Linked DNA regions of Homo sapiens: region 2 is linked to region 1. Evidence: fine-mapped expression QTL. Tissue or cell type: tibial artery. Region 1 holds a variant in brackets; the other region holds the start of a gene. All regions are shown on one strand. Distances are from middle to middle.

Evidence for each region. PIP is the estimated chance that this variant, and not a neighbour inherited with it, causes the effect.
Region 2: it holds the start of ATP10D, and the variant in region 1 is fine-mapped to the expression of ATP10D in tibial artery (GTEx, PIP above 0.99).

What each region holds. Positions count from the first base shown.
Region 1 is chr4:47,540,926-47,543,777 of GRCh38, forward strand. All of the region lies in intron 9 of ATP10D (ATPase phospholipid transporting 10D (putative)), which reads left to right. Among named protein-coding and RNA genes, the nearest start is that of ATP10D, 57 kb to the left of the region's middle. The variant A/G (reference allele first, on the strand shown) is at 1,539.
Region 2 is chr4:47,483,785-47,486,426 of GRCh38, forward strand. It overlaps ATP10D (ATPase phospholipid transporting 10D (putative)), which reads left to right and starts at 1,491. Exons shown (of 23, transcript NM_020453.4): 1 at 1,491-1,735. RefSeq lists enhancers at 1,328-1,622, 1,594-1,663.

The sequences.
Region 1 (2,852 bases):
GTATACATTTATGATGCACAATTTGTGAATCTGATTTACATGGAGGCAGTAGCATTGAACACTTTTCAAGAACAAGGATTTTGGAATCAGGCCTCCTGAGTCTGCATCCCATTTCCACTACCTACAAGCTGTGTGGCCCTTAACAACTATCTAATTTCTCTGTGCCTCAATAAAAAGGATCAATGACACTATCTATCTCATTGGATGGTTAAGAGAATGAGAGAAGATAATTCACATAAAGAATTTAGAACAGCAAATGGCACAAAATGAGTTCTCTATAAATATAGCTGTTGTTACTGTTGTTGTTGTTGTAAATATTGTTAAAATAAGAAATAGGCCTATCTCTTAAGGAGCTCATGGTCCGATGTGGGAGGCAGATATGTAAACATAAATTATCATGTTCATTGTCATAAGATATAAAGTCAGTGTTCTTGTTCCATTTTGTTTTGATTTTCAGGCAGTCAGTATTGGAGGTGGATTTTGCACTGATTAAGGCTTGGGATGTTGAAGCCAAGATACTGGATGTTCTTACGATGCTGGAATTGTATGGGGAATTTGTTTAGAACAAAGGTTTATATATCAAGGATATATGGGTGATACAGTTGGAGGAGGTTTAGCTGAGTGTGTTATTTACAAGCAGGCAAAAGTTGGAATGCTGGAAATGTTTGCAGATTTAGTTCATAGTGAAAGGGTTGATGGAGGATTGATGATACAATTGAAGGAAGCTCATCTGAATGCTGTTCACCTTTGTTTCGGGCCCTTTGGAGAGCACATTGAAAGTATGATAAACTTTTTGTTCTGTAGACTCATGCCCACTTCTTCCATATATCAAATTGATGCAAGTAACAGGCTATAGGAAGATTACTGGGTATTTGAAGAGGGGAATGGGAAGAAAAGACAGATCGGGGATTAAATAATGAAGAGAAATAAAGTAGACAATTTGGTACCTATCTCAATATCTACCTTCAGACAAAGGAAAGAATAGACTTTGTAAGTTTTTTCTTATGAAGCAAAAAGTAAGAATTCCTGCCCTGCTTTGAGGCATTCATGTAACTATTTTGGAGTCTACCTTAAGGTAAGTATTAAGAAATATTAAAGAAATACTAAGAAATATTAAAAGTCATAACGATTTGGATAAGTTTTATCAATATTATAATAAACCTTTGTTTCTCATACAATATATTTTTTTAACACAGGGTCTCACTCTGTTACCCAGGCTGGAGTGCAGTGGCATGATCTCAGCTCACTGCAGCCTCAACCCTCTGGGCTCAAGTGATCCTACCACCTTAGCCTCACAAGTAGTTGGGACTATGGGCACATGCCACCACGCATGGCTAATTTTTGTATTTTTTGTAGAGGCAGGATTTCGCCATGTTTCCCAGGCTGGTCTCGAACTCCTGGGCTCAAGCTATCTGCCAGCCTCGGCCTCCCAAAGTGCTGGGACTACAGGTGTAAGCCACCACACCTGGCTTCACACCTAATTTTTATAAAATTCTCACTGAGCCTGGAATTATAGCTCCAGTAGCTTTGTTTTCTGA[A/G]TCACATTGTAACTTTACTGGTCTATTTCCTTTTTTGAGAAGGAGTCTAGTCTCGCCAGGTTGCAGTGAAGTGGTGCGATCTTGGCTCACTGCAACCCCTGCCCCTTGGGTTTAAGCAGCTCTCCTGCCTCAGCCTCCCTAGTAGCTGGGATTACAGGTGCCCGCCACCACACCCAGCTAATTTTGTGTATTTTTAGTAGAGATGGGGTTTCGCCATGTTGGCCAGGCTGGTCTCAAACTCCTGACCTCAGGTGATCCACCCACCTCGGCCTCCCAAAGTGCTGGGATTGCAGGCCTGAGCCACCGGGCCTGGCCTATTTCCTTTTCATAGCTTCCACAAAATGATTAAAGGTTGAGTCACTTCATATCTTCTTGATTCCACTTTTGCAATTGTACTGACTGAACAAGTTTTCCCTACAGTAATAGCTGAGCTACCTGGAACTATACTAATTATATAGTTGCATGACGACTGATTTCCCTAATGATGGCTAGGAGTTACACGATCATTAAATATAGCCTCCATGTTTATATGTGTTTTGAAGTACAGTATTACCCCCTTATCTGTGGTTTTACTTTCCACAGTTTCAATTACCTTTGGTATAGTAAAATAAGATATTTTGAGAGAGAAAAAGAGAGATCACATTCACATAAGTTTTACTACAGTATATTGTTATAATTATTCTATTTTATTATTAGTTATTGTTGTTAATCTTTTACTATGCCTAATTTATAAGTTAACATTTATCATAGGTATGTATGTATATGAATAAACATAGTATATTTAGGGTTCAATACTATCCGTGGTTTCAGACATCCACTGGGGGTCTTGGAACATATCCCCTGTGAAAAAGGGGAAACTTCTGTATTTTTAAAATATTTTTTAAATGGTGTTACGTCATCAATAAATTCCTTGAGCTACTCAAGGATTTATCAGTCTCAGCACTATTTGGGCTAGATTAATCTTTGTTGTTGGGGGCTGTCCTGAGCATTGTAAGATGTTTAGAAGTATCCTTGGCCTCCACCCACTGAATGCCAGCAGCACACTTCACCCAGTTATAACAAGCAAAAGTATCTACAGCCATTGCCAAACCCCCAGGGGACAAATTCACCCCATGTGGAGAACCACTGAGCCAACTTATTATATACAAATCACTGCTGAGGAGCTATAATATAGTGGGTAGTGTGCTGGCTTTGGAGGCAGAAGACCTAAATCGAATTTCCAGCTCCACCCACAACTAGCTGTTTAATCATGGTTGAACTGCTTAATCTCTCTGGGTCTTAATCTCCTCAGCTGCAGAGTGGGCAGTGATAGTT
Region 2 (2,642 bases), 57 kb before region 1:
GTCAGTGATTCTCAACCCTTGTGCACATTAGAATTTCTAGAGGAGCTTGAAAAAAAGACATTGCCATAGCGCCACCCCCAGAGATTCTGGTTTAATTGGCCTGGGTGGGGCCTTGGCATCAAGCTCCCCGGTTCACTCTGATGTGTAGCTAGTTAGAACCACTGATTTAAGCAATCCAAACAGGCTACATGCCTGAATTGTCCTGGTATGTACGTTCCCAGGAAGGCCCTCTGCTGAGGTAACAACACCAGTGTTTGATTGGGAGAGCTCAGGGGGGCCCAGCTACAGTTTTAAGTCTCCTCTATAAGGTTGACTCTCAGATAGGAAATGTGTTTCATCTTAAAGGATGTTAGAGACAGTCATATGACTGCAAAAAGTGCTACTAGGGCCAGGAATTTCAGAGGCCATGTAAATGACAGTGTATTCTACTAGGCTGGGTTAATTCTGGGGATTAAGTTTGACTAAGTTCTAGAGATTTGTCCTTACCTGCAGATGGAGGCTTCCCTAATGGAGCATCATAGGAAGCCACACCCAGAACTTGTTTCTCCTCGTCTGGCAGAAGCACGTTCTCAGTGGGTGCAGAAACTTGTTTGGCTTCTCTTGGTCTGAGAGAATTTTCAAGCCGACCAACCAGCTCCCTGTGTCTGTACTGGTGAGCTCTTTACTAATAGTCAAACATTTGCATGCTCATTTAGTTTTCTTCACTCTTGTTGCACATCTGAGAAACACTTGAGAGAATGGAAGAGAGAGGCACAATATAGGAGAGCTGTGGAGAGTTTGGCCCCACTTTTTATATTTGTTTCAATGGGATAAAACAGGCAGCCAAGATTATTAGGTTTTGTTCTGAGTTATTGGTTCGGCCTTCACTAAATGGCTTTTCCTCTTTCCAAATTAGACATTTTGAGAAACCAGACAGGTTGTTGAAACTTATTTAGAAGTTTTAAAAAAAGTTGTGAATTTTAAGCAAACGGACCTTGGCAGGTGTATGGACAAAGCCACATTATCCTGAGTAAGGGAACGGAAGGGCAAGGTGTGAGGAAAACGACCAAATCAGAATTGTAATATTTTTCCTCATTTCTTTTCTAGTCATAAAAACAGTAACATTACATATTATTTATTTATTTTGTGGTAGGGTCTCACTCTGTCGCCCAGGCTGGAATGCAGTGGCGCGACATTTTTAGATTTGATCTCTTTTACCCTCCAAAAAATAATTGTCCAGTGTTCCACGTTTAGCTAAAACAGTGAATTGTTAGAATTGCAGCAAAACAATGAACCAAACCGTCAACCGCGAGCAACCTGTACTTGGGAGGTGAAAGTCAGAGGTGAGATTGTAAGGGCTCTGGGTCACTGGGGCATCTGCGCTGGGCAGAAGGGCAGCTCGGTCAAACAGCTGGAGCTGGGAGCCGGTCAGTTGCCAGGCCCTGCCGCTGCTACGTCACGGAGGGCGGGGCGGTGGGCGATTGGCGGTGCACTGCAGCTCGGGCTGCTCTGCAGCCTGGCGGAGACGGGAGGAGGAGCGGAGGGAGAAGTAGGTTGCGAGCTCAGCACAGGCTCCGGCGCTGGCTCCCGCAGCTGAGTTTGGGAGATGTCTAAGTGATTTTTTTTTTTTCCCGGAAGGCAAATGGCTGGCGTGGAAGCACAACCCGCTTTCACTCTTCGAATTTGTGCTTAGCTCTTTTCTTGTACCTTGCGACTCGTGACCAACATGCTGTGATGTGTGCCGAGGGAGGAATTGGTAAGAGTGAGACGGCGAATCCCTCTGACTGTCCCAGCCTTCTGCTTCACCGCCCACCCGCTTTTCCTTTCTGTTTCTCTCTCCTGTTTCTCCCCGCTCCACTTCCCTAGTCGTGTTTAGATTTGATGACATGGCTCAAAACTACAGTTCTGGGCTGTTACTGAACTAAAAAAAAAAAACAACAAAAGATAAAATGATTACACCATTTTCAATCATTTGTTAAAGGGGAATTTAAAAATCTATTTTAAATGCTGGATTTTGTAAAAAGGTAAACTGCACACGCGGGCGCACACGGGCACGTACATACACGCATTCTCACACACCTTTGTACACGCGGGCATACACGGGCACGCACACACACGCATTCACACACACACACACTCCTTTGTCATCCCGTTGTGAAATAAGCAGTTTAAAGAAATTTTGGTTATCTGCCTCAAAGGTGATGAAAAGGGAAGGTGTTGAAGATTTAGCCCAGCAGATTGATTCCTTAAGGTTGATTCCCTAAGGTTGATTCCTTAGGAAGAAAAAGGTGTTTGTATTGGAGCTTTCTCGGAAATAGTTTTCAAAGGAGTGCTACAAAGAAGCCCCCATGCTTCCCCCAAAACACTAACTTTAAAGAACCTAGTTGTTATTCGGGGCACCCTTTATTTTACGTTGTAAAACATGTAGTTTTAATTTACCACGTACAGCAGAGAGACATCAGTTGGTTAGGGAATGGATGGTTATTTTGGTGTCTGGGACCCTGTGCCTTTAGAAAGAATATGTTTTAACTGCTCTTATCATGCTAGCTCAGGTTTTTAAAATGTGATCTGAATAAGACCAAAGTTTCTTCTTGCGTTCTTTTCATGCTGGTTCTAAGCAGGGAGAAAAACAAGTCTGTATGGACAGAGCAAACCTCTAACTC